Linked DNA regions of Homo sapiens. The protein of the gene in region 2 interacts with the protein of the main gene of each other region in a biochemical or structural test. Each region holds a gene or a part of one and is shown on either strand. Other genes may lie near its edges.

The links. Proteins that work in one complex are often made in the same cells at the same time.
Region 1: the proteins of INPP5A (region 2) and PLEK form a complex in vitro, tested with the Homo sapiens proteins (one study listed by IntAct).

Annotation. Positions count from the first base shown.
Region 1 is NC_000002.12:68,381,512-68,389,414, reverse strand, and holds part of PLEK (pleckstrin), read right to left. Parts: intron 6,874-7,903; coding exon 6,782-6,873; intron 2,914-6,781; coding exon 2,729-2,913; intron 1,029-2,728; coding exon 924-1,028; intron 1-923. UniProt on the Homo sapiens protein: Major protein kinase C substrate of platelets.
Region 2 is NC_000010.11:132,645,070-132,653,260, reverse strand, and holds part of INPP5A (inositol polyphosphate-5-phosphatase A), read right to left. Parts: intron 7,394-8,191; coding exon 7,293-7,393; intron 2,844-7,292; coding exon 2,756-2,843; intron 1-2,755. UniProt on the Homo sapiens protein: Phosphatase that specifically hydrolyzes the 5-phosphate of inositol 1,4,5-trisphosphate to inositol 1,4-bisphosphate, and inositol 1,3,4,5-tetrasphosphate to inositol 1,3,4-trisphosphate. Plays a crucial role in the survival of cerebellar Purkinje cells.

The DNA of each region.
Region 1 (7,903 bases), on a different chromosome or scaffold from region 2:
CTATAGACAGTACATGGAAATCTCCTGATGGCAACAGATTCTCTCCATTATATACTGAGCAGCACTTTTAAGGCAGCTCACAGTGCAGCCAGGAAGGCAAGACCTTGGTCCTGCAAAGCAGCCTTGGCCTCTAAGATGCCTTGTGCAAGTATCAACTAGCTTCCCCCTGAATATTCTCATGTCTTCCTGCGACTTCCTCCACCAGGTACTGGTCCTGGCTTCCTCAGTCATCTTGGCCCCTGTCCATCTCTTACCTCTTGGCATCATATGCCTTGGCACCTGGTAACCGACTAGAGCTCCTCAGCACTCTCCAGCCCTTGCCTCCAAGACTGATGGTGGCCTGTACCTGTGGACACCTGGACATCCCCCCAGGACTCTGTCCATGCCCTCAATCTGCATTTGACTTTTGCCTGCTGTTCCTGTGAACTGGCCTCTGCATGCCCAGGTTTTGGTCTTGTCATGCCCTAAGCACAGACTGGAATGACTCTTCTTTGCTCTCAGTGGTGTACTCTGTTCCTCTTCTGGGTGTAGCCTGTTCCTGTTTTCCTGGTTGCTTTGAAGGGAGGAGGGACAGGTAAAATGGAAGTACTTTTACCATGAGACAGCTTTGTCTTTTGGATGGCATCTCTTAGACAATTTATCTCCTCCGGCCATATTTTTCTTGAAACACCTTTTTTTTTCCTATGATATTGATAAAAGAGGCATTTTCCTACTTTTAGGGACATCTTCTGCCCTGTCAAACTCAATCTTCCTGATCTAAAGCCACTTTGATATCTAAAGAGCTACTCATCTATCTTTCACTTTGTGGGTTTCATTTTCTGCTTGACTATTAACCAAACAAACCAAAAGTCACTGGGTAACTTAGAAACAAAAAGGACCTTGTAAAGGGAAAAGGCTAGATGGGAGCAGTTGTGGCCACTCACCTGCTTCAGTAAACATCCCTGCTTGATAATGACCCCTCTGAATTCTTCTTTCAGAATCACATCATCATCACTGGAATTCTCTTCACAGAAGAACCCACTGTCTGGCTGTTGGAAAATCAAACAGCAAGCTAACATCACCAGTCTTAGGCACATTGCAACTTGTGCCATCTCCATTCCCCCTCCCCTCCAGCCATGAGGGCAGCCTCCTCCTTTTTCCTCCATTCCTGTGTACATCCCAATCTGAACTTCAAAGGTCCTTGATGAGCGAGTTTCTCCTCCTCCTTTTACTTGCTTCCGGGGCTGTTCCTTTCTTGTCTCCACTCAGGTGTGATCTTGTCAATATCCTTTTATTCTGGAGGGTCTCCCAAGCTGTATCCTAACTTTAGCTCCATCTTCCTAACCAGGCACATGTCTGCCTTCAAAGCCTTCCTTCTCTTGGGATATCATGGTCACATCCTTGAAAGCAGGGCAGGCTAATTTCTCATTGGCAATACTATCACCAGCTCAACATTTGCCACTGAGCCCCCTCTTGGAGAAAAGTGACAGCATGTGTCCAGCCTCTTCCCCTGAGGTTATGAGGGAAGTGGGACTTGCTCAGCAAAAGTAGATGATGAATCAGACCGAGGAAGAGGAGCCACTGTGATGGGTATTTTTAGAATCCTGCATTGAAATGGCTATAAACGACCAGATCAAAGGACTGAAGAAAAAAAAAAAACAGACTGTGGAACTTCCCCTAAAGTGAAATGAAACCCTCTAGGGTGTTCACTTCATGTTTATAAGAAGAATGGTTCTCTTAGGTAACTTCCTAAATTCTGTGCTCTGATCCAAGATAGAAACAAAACTGCCAAAATCCCCCAAGAAATCCACCATTGCTCACATGGCCTAAGAACAGGTTCACATTGTATAATATAGTGTTTCCCAATCGTGGGTAAGCATACTGTGGGAGGTACACAAGATGACTGCAGGAAGTGACATCTGTGGACACATTTTGTATTAAGAGTCATGTGTTTTAACATACATTTGGAATAATGCACTTAATACATCAAACCTGTGATTTATAGACTCCTGTCTGGAAAGGAAGCTGCAGTAGGGCAGGATTTTTGCCTGTCCCTCCAGTACGCTTGTCTACGTGGCTGTATCTTCTTGTCTTAGAGAATGCTTGCCATGGACTAGGGTCTAAGACAGTTTTATAAATGAATTATTGCTTAGAATAAGAATAGATAGTTGGGAGGCAGAGGCAGGTGGATCACTTGAGGTCAGGAGTTCGAGACCAGCCTGGCCAACATGGTGAAACGCTGTCTTTACTAAAAATACGAAAATTAGCTGAGTGTGGTGGCGCATGCCTGTAATCCTAGCTACTCGGGAAGCTGAGACAGGAAAATCGCTTGAACCCGGGAGGCGGAGGTTGCAGTGAGCCGAGATGACACCACTGCACTCCAGCCTGGGTGACAGAGCAAGACTACATCTAAATAAATAAAAAATAATAATAAGTAAATAGGAAACAATAAACTTTAAAATGTCCTTTAAAAATTTTTTTTCAAGTAAACAGTAGTATCCTTTTATAATAACAAATTCACTTGGACAGGGCGAGTGTTGTAGAGAGGGCAGCTGTTGAGTTGGGAAATGCTGGTATAACAGAAGCTCTAAATGGGCCTGGGAGCTTCAGGTATTCCCTTGTTCTTCCTGGCTGACCTCCCTACCCGCTGCCTAACAGCGCTCTATAGATGTCTATGAACTGAAATCAATCTAGAATCTGCTCAGGGCAGCCTCCCTTACAGGAAGAAGAGATGGGGAGCTTTTCTTACAAAGTAGTAGAAGGCATCAGGGTTGTCCAGGAAAGGGTTTTCAGCAGTTCCATCCACTGCACTCTTGGACATGTCTCCAGCAGGCTGCAGATACCCCTCATTGAGCAGCGATGAAGCAATCATGAGGCCTTCCTGGCGATTCCTAACAGACTGGTTGGATACCAGCCAATCAATGACGCAGTTACCTAGATGGGACCAGCACAGGGAAGGTTAACTCTCCTTACCGAAGAACAAGCCCCTGACAATCACCCCTGAACTGACTCCAGCTCACCCACAGGTCTGACTTGTCTCGTCTCCCCTGTTATTTCAAGAAAGAGAAAACAAAATAAGTGGGATAGATACCCACTAGAAACAAACAAACAAACAAAAAACTATGTAAAGGGTTTTTAAGAACATCTACATGCTGCTTAAGAAGAAACACATGACCAGGTATGGTGGCACACCTGTTGTCCCAGCTACTCTGGAAGCTGAGGCAGTAGGATAGTTGAGCCCAGGAGTTCAAGACCAGCCCAGGCAACATAACAAGACTCCATCTCAAAAAATATGTACCCTAAAACTTAAAGTATAATAAAAAATAAATAAATAAAAACAAAAATAAAATAAAAAAATAATAACTTTAAAAATAAAAAAATAAAGTCTTTGTCTTAAAAAAAAGCAACACATGCATCAAAGAAATAGGTTTTACTAACCCACTCACTTATCCCATTGATGAACAAACATTTACTGAGCACCTACTCGATGCTAGGTACTCTACTGGGTGTTGGAGAAATTCCCTCAAGGAGTGTAAAAGGGCATGATGGGTGTAATAAATAAGTCTTGTAACAAGTGCTCTGCTATAAGTCAGTTGCGAGACTACTGGGTCAAATCTGAAGGTGTGAAAGAGGTGAAGGAGGTGAGAGAAGAGGGCTGTGCATCACCATCAGGAAAAGATTCATAGAGGAAGTGACACTGGGCAGAGGCTTAAAATATGAGTAGGCGTTTGCCAAGCATATGAAGCAGGATGCAGAGGAACCAGCACAAGCTGAGGGGGCAGCAGTGTGAACAGATGCACTCAGGCATAAAGCAGCCCCATGGGGCAGGGGAGGAGTTGGTGGAAAGAAGGCAAAAGGAAATAAGAGGAGGAGGGAGGTGAAGGGTGGGTGGGGAGAGCTTTGATGGCACAGTAAGAAATTTGGCTAATGGGAAATCATTTTAAGTTTTTAAATAGGAAATAATGTGATGGATATATGTCCTAAATTAAAATTTGATGACATCACCTGCACTGATTGTCATGACTTTGCAGAGTCTAGCAGGGACCTTGAGAAGTCATTTAAGCAATCTTCTGGTCAAGAGATGATTGCAAAGAGAAGAAAATGAAATTGACCCATACATTGGATTATTAGCAGGTTACAATGAAGCTTTGTATTAAAAACAGCATGTTTGTTCTTACAACAAAAAAAGATAGATATTTGAGGTGATGGATACACTAGTTACCACGATTTGATCACTGCACAATGTATATGTGTATCAGAACATTAATTGTGCCCCATAAATACGTACTATTATGTGTCAATTAAAAAAGATAAAAATAAAAAGCAGTGTGTTCCTTACAAATGTAGCCAACAAGGGAGTCAACATGACAGCCTGCCTGTCCTGTCATCCGGGCAAAAGCAGTAGGGATGCCACCCTCAAAACAGGAGTGACAGCAGTTGGATAGCGAGCCTTCCATGAATTTCATGTATGAAAGGCTTTTGCTCACTTTTCTTTCTCTACAAAGATAAACTAAGTGACACTGCATTTCTTCTTTTTATCTTCATAGCAGCCTGTGAAAGAGGCAGGGTGGTAATTGCAGTCCTCATTTTAAGGATAAGAAAATTAAGGCTCAGGGAATCTGAGTGATCTTAGGCCAAAGTTACAACTGCTCTGGGCTGTCACTTTTAAGTGTTCTAACCCTTGCATCCACGCTCACTCAGTGAGGCATGCTGAAGCTTGAAAGACAAGTTTGGTCTAGTCTGCCTGTCATCGGACATTTAAGGTCTTCCATCATGTGTCAGTACTGCTGGGTCCCAGTCTCTGCTACAGCCTTCATCTCCCAGCCGAGGCCACCTGACTCCCCCATGAAGGCTCTACCCATAGAAATGTCCAAAACCCACCCTGGCCTTCAACAAGAAGGATTTAAGAAGTACTAGCCCACCTGTAATCTTAGGGATTACAGGCCACTTTGAGAGGCCAAGGCAGGCAGATCACCTGAGGTTGGAAGTTTGAGACCAGTCTGGCCAACATGGTGAAACCCCGAATCTACTAAAAATACAAAAATTAGCCAGGCATGGTGGTGCACATCTGTAATCCCAGCTCCTCAGGAGGCTGAGGCACGAGAATCACGCTTGAACCCGGGCGGCAGAGGTTGCAGTGAGCCTGAACAACAAAAGTGAAACTCCGTCTCAAATAAAAAGAAGAGGAAGAGGAAAAAGGAGAAAAGAAGAATAAGAACAAGAGGAAGAAGGAGGAGAAGGAGAAGGAGAAGGAGAAGGAGAAGGAGAAGGAGAAGGAGAACAAGAAGAAAAAAACCAGCCCAATAGTCTGGGACTCAGTAACACATTACAGTGGAAATCAGTCTGACCTGGATTGGGTGCCCAAGTCTACATTGAAATGCCCTCCTGTTCCCTTTGCCCAAGGCTGTTGCAGTGACCTCGGTCCTGATAGAGTTGGGAACTTCCCTTGTTCTTGTCACTTTCTCATACCACCACCCACAGCTTGGTGTCTTGATCCCAAATCTCAGCCCTGCCTTGTCTGATGCTGGGCTGCTGCCTTGACTCTGAGGCTTATTCCCACGGGGGACTATCTCATCGTCAGTGATCAAAGCCTTTTCCCCTTAGCCTTGCTGATCCTGACCTGGACCAATTTCATGGATTATCTGTTGATGGCACATCCTCTTAGATTCCACATTTGCTGTATCAGCTCAGAGTTTTCTTCCTTTGATCTCTCCTGTCACCATAAGAAAGCCAGGCCTGGTATCTGACAAACTTAGTACCAAATTGTACATCCCATTTTGCTCCCCCTGATGAACCGTCAGCCCTACTAGGCTGGTCAGTTTCTTTTTCTAGATGCATATTCTGCACATGTCTGCCTCATAACTTTGTCCTCACCATCCTTTGCCCATCCTCTGCTCATCCTCTGCCCTGGCCCATCCTCTGCTCATCCTCTGCCCTGGCCCATCCTCTGCTCATCCTCTGCCCTGGCTCCTCATTAAAAATCCTCCTGTAAATATTTAATGAAATTCTACCCATCTTTCAGGGTCAAATTTGGGTACCACCTCCTATTCATCCCATCAACCCCTGAGTTCTTTCTCTTTTTTTGAACCCCTGGAATTGGTTGTACAGACATGTGACCACTTAAAACACAATAACCACTTGAGCTTGCACCATATAGCACTGAGTGTGTGCCAGGCACTACTCTACACACATAATGGCAAGCCTATGAGGTAGGTGCACTGTGATTATCCCCACTAAATAGACAGAGAAAGTGAAGCACAGAGAGGCTAAGTTATTGAGCCAAGGTTTTATAACTAGTAAGTTGCAGAGCCAGAATTTGAACCAAGGTGGTCTGGCTCTAAAGGACATGTTTTTAACCACTACACCATACTACCTAAACTCATAACACTTAATACCTGACCCTGTGCAGCCTCTGATAGCCCTAATATTGTCATTTAAAACTTACATTGTATGCCTTAATCCCTGTTTATTGTAGTAAGGGTTGCATCTTATCCAATTCTGTGTCTATTTCTAGCAAGTCTCAACATAATGCCATTTATTGAGAAAAAAAATCCTTTGATTGGAACGTTAGCTTGAACAAATGTTAACTTGAACAAATAAAGCTTGAACAAAATCGTTAGCTTGAACAACAAACTTCTTTCTATTTTCACTCTGTAGGAGCTTCATCCTCAGGCTCACCAGGCTGCATTCTGGGACCCCTTCCAACCCCCATACTTCATACCCCCACCTCACAGACGAGGCCGAAGGAGGACTCCATATCGCCTTCCCAGTCGCCCTATTTCAGGCCTGCAAGTGCTTTTACCTGTGAAGCAGTGATTAAAAATCTTCTTGTCCTTCTCTAGATTCAGTTCTTTTATTCCTTTTTCAGTGTCTTTCATGGACAAATATAAGGCACTGCACAGAGATAAAAAAGCAAACAAACAAACAAACAAAAAAAAACCCAGTTGGATGAGTGGGGAACATTTCAGAATGGTAAGTTCTCTCTGGGAGGTGAGCACAAGCTCCCCCACCCCAGGTATCCCCTGAGCTTAATCTCCCTCCATCAGATCATAAGTAGTGGAGGGGCAACATTCATATCTGCATAACTCTGTAGCCTGCACAGCGTTTAGCAATGCTGGAAGGTACTTAACGTCTCCTAAATTCTCTTAAATTCATTCAGCTGTTTGTTGATTTAATTATTGGTTCCTGGGATGGAAATTTGCCCCAATTTAGAGGTCAAAGATGAAAGGTTCCTAGGGTCCATTTTCTACACATTCTACATCTTTAATGTCCCTCAATCCTCATATCCCAATTCTTTAATGCTCTTCAAGGGACCATCTGTGGTAGACATTGGCCTTTAAGAAAGTGAATGCTTCCACTAAGCATATGTCTTATCTTTAAAATGATGAGATATAAGGCAAAATGGTGAGAAGTTCTCATTTTTGTCCTTGAAGTAATACATCAAAGATAGCCTTACGAGAGAAGCTCTAAGCAACAAAACAGAAGGCCCCTTCCATGTAGCCTGTGGCTCCCTATAGCCCGAGCATTTTTCCCACTTAGTTCTGACAGCACTGGCCAGGACTGTGGTCACTCGATGGCCCCCATCAGCAGCTGCAGCTGCACTAGGTGCCTCGTTGGAGCTCTTTGCCAAAAAGCTTTTGTGGTGAAGGAGGCTGCTGAGTCTCACTCAGCTCAGTTCACAAACTTTGTCAAACTCCTGTGCCATGCCAAGTCTTGTGTCGTCATGCAGAAGTGCAGAAGGGATGTCTTTAGGCTCCTCTCAGTGCTTCTCCCCACCCCACCCTCCATAAAAACAAAATTCTTGTTGGACATTTTAAGCAGCTGGCATGGGATTCTTCTCAACAGGGCTCCTGCTTCAGGGAATGCTCAACAAAAAAGCAAAACTACCAAGAAGAAAGTGACTCCTAGAGAAAGGGGCTCATGT
Region 2 (8,191 bases):
TGAAGGAGGTTTTGCTGAGGCTTTCGCCCTCATGTGGAAAAACGTTTTGGTGGAAACAGAACTACAGCATGACGGCTGCCCCTCCGCCAGCCCATGTGTGCCTCGCTCTCAGGTATCCCAGCCAGGCTCGGACAGACGGAGAGGCCTGCTCTGGCCAGGGCCCAGCACGCGGGTGCCTTCTGTCGGTGGCTGCGTCCACCACTGCTCTGGCTGGAGAGCCTCAGATGCCAAGGGTGCGGGTGGCGGGCACTGCCCCTCCGCCCACCTGCACATCGGCCAGCAGGAGGGGACTGTGGGGTCCTCCTGCGGTGCAGAGCCTCCCGTCTCCACCCAGCCCTGTCGGTTTCGCGTCTAAGTGAGCTCTGATATTAGGGGCGCACGTTCACGACCGCTATGTCCTCCCAAAAAGCTGACCCCTTATCATCGTGAAATGACCGCTCTCAGCCCCGACAACACGCTCGTTCTGAGGGCACCCTGACATGCAGACAGCCACTCCTACTTTCTTCTAACGACTGTTTTACAAGGTACATCCTCCTCCGTCCCTTCACTTTTAAAATACCTGTGTCTTTATATCTAAAGGAAGCTGGAAAGAGCTGAGCGATGGTCCCCATGAGGAAGAGGTAGCTGGCGACTGGCACAGATGAGGCTCCCATGGCAGGGCAGCACGCAGAGACGGGGAGCAGAGCCCCACTCTTCCGAGGATGATGGGTGGCAAGGAAGGGCCTTCATGTAACTTGCTTTCAGCAATCGGACCTTGGCCTGCGTTGGTATGTTTATTCGGCTTGAAGCTTGTTGCAGTATTTGGATCTTTCTGTAAGTTTCATGGACTGATGAAGAAATCTGAGCCATGACATCTGTAAGCATCACCCTGTCTGCCTCCTTTCCCCGCTCCTCCTGGGGCTGCAGCCACACGTGTTAGGACACCTGGTATTTCACAGTGATTTCTATCCACTTTTCAGTCCTTCTCTCTGTTTCACTTTAATTTTGTGGCTGTCTTCAAGTTCAGTCACCTTCTCTTTTCTTCTGCAATGTCTAATTTGCTGCTCCCCCAGTGGTGTTTTTCTTTTTCATCTGAATAAGCCCCTACTTGGGAAACACATTACGTTGGGTCATGGCAGAGGAGAGTGAGAGGGTCAAGGAAGCTGCCATTTTATGGAAAGGATGGCAGAGCTGAGAGAAAGAAGCTGGTAGGGAGGAGGGACCAAGGGGGAGAGGGAGGAGGGACCAAGGGGGAGAGGGAGGAAGGCTGACAGGAGGAGCTACATCCTGAGCACAGGGGTGAGGGCCTTGGCTCTGGTGTGAGTGGGGGCCCCGTGGTCCCCGTGTGCCCCACAGAGCGTGAGGAGAGGCCGCTTGTGTGTGGGCAGCTGCTTGACAGGGCGAGGGTCGGAGACCGAACGGGGGATTCCCGGGATTGTACAGACTCCACTACTGGTGGGGACCACGCATGACAGCTGTGTGACCATCTCAGGGACAAGGACATTGATCAACTGGCACTGGATGCCCAAACAAGTGAGATGGCCCTTGAACCCAAACAGCAATGAGAGTCCCACCTGCAGGGCAGGGGGGCACTGGAGAGCGAGACCCTCAGCACTGCAGCCTACGGGGGCCCACCTGGGAGAGGGCAGATTAACAAGGGCCTGTCACGTGACGGCGCAATGACGGCTAGTGGGCGCTGATGCTGGGGACAGAAGGCCAGAGATGGGGGAGAAGGATGCAGGGCCTCTCCAGAGACGGGGGAGATGGAACCAGGCCGGGGGACCCAGGGCCTCCCCAGAGATGGGGGAGATGGACCCAAGCCGGGGGACCCAGGGCCTCCCCAGAGACGGGGGAGATGGACCCAGGCCGGGGGACCCAGGGCCTCCCCAGAGACGGGGGAGATGGACCCAGGCCGGGGGACCCAGGGCCTCCCCAGAGACGGGGGAGATGGATCCAGGCCGGGGGACCCAGGGCCTCCCCAGAGACGGGGGAGATGGACCCAGGCCGGGGGACCCAGGGCCTCCCCAGAGACGGGGGAGATGGATCCAGGCCGGGGGACCCAGGGCATAAAGACGGGATTTAAGACGTGGGTCTCTGAACCAACAGCAAGTTATTCACGACCTGCAGAGTGTCCCCTCCTCTGAGGAGCTTCCTGCCCCTTCCCAGACACCTGGTGCCTGTATCTCTGTGGCTGCCACGTCCACCAGGGCCACCCTCTCATGTGTCCACCTGACAGAGGACCGCAGAGGAGGGACAGGTCTTTCCCAGCCCTGTGGAAGGCTCTGTCCCACTCCCCCTGTGCTCACCCTGAGGAACAGCCTCTCTCCGAGGCAGGACACCGCCCCAGCCCTGCACACTCAGGGATCAGGAAGGGACGGACCCAGCATGGGAGCAGGGCTGGCGACGGTGGCTCTTGAAGCAATACCGGCTGCTGTCCAACCTCTCATCTACACGCCTGGAGCCCCGGACTCCCTCTTATTTTCATGCACGCTGAGGCCCTGGGCCTCTCCCCACCTGTCACTCCCCAATTCCCTCTTGGGCTTGGTCTGGAGCCCCAAGACCCTGTGCGTGCTGGGCCACCTTCCCTGCCAGGCCAGCCATGGGCTCAGACCACGAGCAGACCACCAAGCAGGCTGCGGGAGTGCCAGGCAGGGCAGCGTGAGTGAGGCTTCAGGCAGGGAGCACCCCGACCTCTCTCCATTTACACAGGAGAAGGGCTGGCTTCTGCCAAGGCCAGCCTGTCTGACCCCTGCACCAGGCAGCGGGAGGGACTCACCGTGAAGTGCTCCTGGGATTTGTAGTTTTCATCCAGGTAGACTCGAGCCCTGTTATATTCTTTCATCGCATCACTCGACAATAGTTCTCTGGAAGGAAGAAAGTAGGTTCCTGAGGAAAAGCCACACAGACGCCTTGCACCTCATGAGATGACCACAAGGTATAAGAGGGGCTCCAGCACATAGGTACATCACCGTGAGACCATCCACCCGTGACAGGCAGAGGGCAGGGAATGGCGGCAGCCACCGCAGGAGCTGGCCTCACGTTCAGCTCTCAGCATGTGCAGAGCTCAAGCTCCCACAGGCTCTGGTCTCCACGCAGCCTGTGAGATGCCGGGGTCTGAGGCATCCCAGGGATGGAGACATTGAGAACTCACCCAAGGTCTCATGCCAGGGAAGCGCAACTCCAAGCTCTGGGGGCTCTCCTGATAGCTCACGCTTGGTCTTAAGAGAGAAATTGGACCCCCAGTAGCCACCAGCACACACAGGTTGGGGCACATGCACCCCAGGGCCCAGGTAGTTCTGTCCCCATCTGCTCCTCCCAGAAGTGGCAGCGAGAATGGTGGTTGAGTTGCCACGGCCTTGCAACCACACAGGAGGGAAAGGACCTCTGGACACGCCATTGTCCCCGACCGTTCATCCTACTGGTCACATTTTATCATCAGGAAGGCCTTAAGGAGACAAGCTCACCACCATCTCCGCAAAGCATGGCTGCACAGGAGGCCACCGCACACCCCTGGAGCCCATGAACGGAGGACGAGGCCCCGTCTGCCTGGCCCCTCCACAGAGACAGTCCATCATCCCCCTACCCACGCATGCTTATTCAAGCCAGTGGGGAGAGAGGAGACCAGCACCCTGTGATCCAGCCAGTCCATGTGTCAGGAAGAAGGGGGGTCCACATTGAAGAAAATAAAACTGCACCAGTAGAGAAGGGCAAGGCAAAGAATGCCTTGACAGACCCACACTGATCCCCATGTGGCTTAACTGTTGGTAAACACAACCTTCAACACGCTTTAAAGGAAGAAAACAGGGCTCAAACACTAAACAACGTAACATTCGCAATGTCTGCCATCCTACGGAAAATAACTTGATATGAGAAGCAGCAACACCACGTGAATGTGTCCCGTCATCCTACGAAGAAGCCGTCAACAGAAACAGACCCGGAAGAGGCAAAAATGACGGAGTGAGCTGAAAGCAACTGGGAACAGTCATTGCAACTGTGACCAGACAGCGAAAGGAACGCACAGACGGAAGGAAAAGCGAGGACAGGGAAAGCACACGTGAGGCTTCTGGAAGGAGTGGACAAACACAATGTCAGAAATAAAACGAACTGACTGCATGGACCTAAGAGAAGATCAAAATCTGCAACAGAAAAGAGCCCAGCCACTTAAAAATACAGCAACAGAGGCGATCCAAACCGAAACACAGGGAAAATGAGCTGAAAACAATCAGAAGAGCTTTAGGGCCCTGTGGGGCAGAACCAGGCAATCTAACATCAGGTAACTGGAGCCTAAGAACAAAAGAGAAGGGAAGGAAAAGAAAAATAGTATTTAAAGAAATAATGGACAAGGACAAATTTTCCCCAAATTTGATTAAAACGATAAACCCACAGACTGCAAATGCTCAAACGGCCCCAAGCAAGATAAACATAAAGAACATCAAAGCAAAGTACAACATAATCAGGTTGCTGCAAACCAGCTATAAAGACAAAACCTAGCAGTGGAGGAAAGGGCACATTATATACAAGAAAATTAAGAGAGAACAATGGCGAGATTCTCGCCAGCAACAATGCAATACAGAAGACAATGGGGCGATATCATTAAAGTAGTGAGAGGAAAAAAAATTGACAAGCTAGAATTCTATTTACAACAAAAACAGCTTTCAAAAATGAGGACAAAGACCTTTTTCAGATAAACAAAAGCTGAGAAAATTCATGAGCAGCTGACTTGTGCTAAAATAAATGTTAAAGAACGTTCTTCAGGCAGAGAGAGAAGGGTGCCAGATAAAAAGCAGAATCCACACAAAAGGGCGGAGGGCACTGAAAGCCAGTGAACTGGTCCACACCAAGGGCGTTTCTCTCACGTCTTAATCTTTTAAAAAGAAAATTGTTTAAAGCAAAAATCATAACGCTGTACATTAGGCATAAAGCGCGGAGGAAGGAAACACACACGGCATCGCGGGGGCACAAGGCCGTGGGGGCCACACTCCACTGTGAAGCTCTCACACCAAACACGGCGGCATCGTTCCCGTCCGGCCTGCGGTGTCCCCGCCTGCTGTGAGGGCGGCGTCCTCCGTGCTCAGGGTGCACCCCCACTTTCTCTCCTCTGGAAGGTGCTTCCCAACAGGGGCTGCTTTCCTTCTCTTACCGACTTACTGAGTTCTTCATATATTTAAACACTCGTTTTTGTCAGTAAGGTGTGCTGCAGATATCTTTTCCCGAAGTGGCTGAATTTTGATTTTGTTTTGAGTGACTTCATTTTGAGTGACTTCATTTTGAGTGCCTTTTCATAAGCAAATGCTTAGTTCAAACATGGCCACATTTTTCAGCCTTCCATTCTGTAGGCTGCACTTCCTGCACATTTTAAAAGAAATCTCTCATCCCAAAACTATATTTTCTCCTATATTTTAGACTGAAATTTTTAATGTTGCCTTTTACATTTATATAATTAATACAACTGAAATTCATCTTATGTAGGGTGAGTGAGAAGTGGCTGCTTATGACACAAAGCAGGGATCCAATTTCATTTTTCCCAACAGGACACCAATGATGCCGTGCCCCAGCCCATGTCCCCACCCACCCTCCTCCAAGGCAGCCGCGAGGGTCTGGGTGGGGCCTCGACTCCGCTCTCCACTCTCTGGGCTGCGCACCTGCCTCGATCCGCTCTCCTCTCCGGGCCTGCGTCATGCCACCTGCCCCACTGCTTCTTCGGAATGAGCCTTGGGGTCGAGCTGGGTGAGAACCCACTTTGTTTTCCTTCAGGATTCTTTTAACTATTCTTGACCCTTTGCTCTTATATGGCAATTTTAGTATTAGTTTGTTGAGTGTTAGGAAAAATGCCGCTAAGATTTTGATTAAAACTGCCTTAAACTGGCCAGGCATGGTGGTTCATGCCTGTAATCCCAGCACTTTGGGAAGCCAAGGCAGGCAGATCACAAGGTCAGGAGATTGAGGCCATCCTGGCTAACATGGTGACACCCCATCTCTACTAAAAAAACACAAAAAAATTAGCTGGGTGTGGTGGTGGGCACCTGTAGTCCCAGCTACTCGGGAGGCTGAGGCAGAAGAATGGCATGAATCCAGGAGGCGGTGCTTGCAGTGAGCTCAGATCACGCCACTGCACTCCAGCCTGGGCAACAGAGCGAGACTCCGTCTCAAAACAAAAAAAAAAAAAGAAAAAAAAAATGCCTTAAATTACAGATTATTTTGGGAAGTTGTGGCAGTTTTTTTTAGCAGCTGAAACCACTTTGCTCTGCTCGAGGACCCTGCGCTGGGAGTTCAACACGGAGGGCTTATGTCACAGCAAGGATGCAGCGGCTGGGATCGCCTGAAGCCTCGCTCACACTCACACTGGCACCAGGCCGGGAGGGCTCGACGGCTCTGCCCACAGGTCCCGACTCCGGGTGGCTGCATCGACCCACAGAGCATGGCAGCAGCGTCAACCCACAGAGCGTGGCAGCAGCGTCGGCCCACAGTGTGTGGCAGCGGCGTCGGCCCACAGAGCGTGGCAGCGGCGTCGGCCCACAGAGTGTGGCAGCTTTGTGAAGCTCTGCGATGTTGGGGGCTGGTCCCAGAAGCCCTCATGCTGTGAAGAAGCCAGGGCTTGCCCAGGGTCTGGAGGTGGAGACGAGCCCCCAACATGGGAATGTGCCAAGGCCACACTGTAGGGGACACAGAGGGCGGGCTTCACGGCTGCGGCCTCGGGAAAATACAGCAGCCACTATTAGCAACAGCCTATAGGAGGCCCCATGTCTGAACACAAGCCTGCCTGCCCCTGCCTGCTCCTGTCCACTCCTGGATGCCCCAGGTCCGGGCGCCCCCTCTTCCCAGGCAGGACCCAGTTGGGCCGGCCCTGTCAGAAGCCTCAGGGCATGTACAGTGGGAATACACGTGGGGCACCTTCCTCCTAAACGATGGAGATTTCGCCCCCAAGGAGGATAGACGCTCCCTGCCGACCTCCTTGAGACAGACTGCGCAGTGGGATGTGAACCCCGGCCACCACAGGCCCAGGCCTCAGACACACACACACGGAGACGGCTCCACTGGTATCTGGGGCTCACGTCCCCTGGCCCGAGAGCACAGACCCTCGCCGTGTGGAGGCAGCAGGCTGTCACTCCGTGGCCTTCTGTCGCCGCCCCAAGGAGGCTCGTGGCCACACGTCTGGGCCACTCCTCTCTTTGGAAAACTGAGACTCAGCCAAGATGACCCCCAGGTGAGTCCCGAATGGTGAGGCTGGTGATCATAGTACCATGAAAAGACCCCCGCCGGCACCCCACACCCCTGGGAAGTGGACATGCACCAGCACCTGCCCCTAGACTTACTTGACGAACTTGTCCACGTGGGACATGGAGGCCTCGTAGTTCTTCCCTCCAAACTCCTGACAGTGCAAGGCCATGAAGTGCGGCTTGTGTGTGTGCACGACCTGGAGGGAGAGAAGCACACTGTCAGGGTCGTCGGAGCCGTCCACAGAGCCACACGTGGCACCACCCCCTCCACCGCCCCCACAGCCTGGGAGCCACCAGGGTCTGGCAGAGACGGGGCCCCATGTCTGCGACCATGGGTTCTGGACAGATTCTAGGAGTCACGTCGCCTTTGTGCTTCCAGTTATTTATATTTCCAGTGCTTTTCATTTTCCCATTACTGTAAATTCCATAGAAAAGAGTCCAGATTTCTCAGAAGCCTCTTCAATCATCTAGAGGCCTTATTTCTAGTTAAAAAAATGTTATGCGTGTTTACTGCAGAGCCTCTGGGAGCCTCAAGATCAACTGGTCACAATCTCACCAGGAAGGCAGCCATTAGCAACACCCAGGCACAACCCCAGCAAGGGTGCACACGTGTGCATACGTGTGCGGGAGCACGTACCAGCACGCGTGTGCCGGAGCATGTGTGTGTACACATGTGCCTGTGTATGCATGTGTGTTCACGTGTGTAGGAGCCAGGCACTCCGCCGCCTGCTCACAGCCTGGGAGGACGCCGACACACAGCAGCAACTCACGCAAGGCCACTTCCACTAAGTGGCAGAGCCGGGAACCTGAGCCTGGCATCACGGCCACTGGTGCCCCTGCCCCGCCCGCCCCATCAAGGCTCCCAGGCCCCCGACATGTCTCTGAGGTCCCCAGCAAGGATTCTGACTCAAGCAATCACCGCTGCAGCGTGCTGAATCTGTCCCAAACTTTTACAGCTAAAGAGCAGTGCAACAAATATCCTTGTCAGTGCGGCT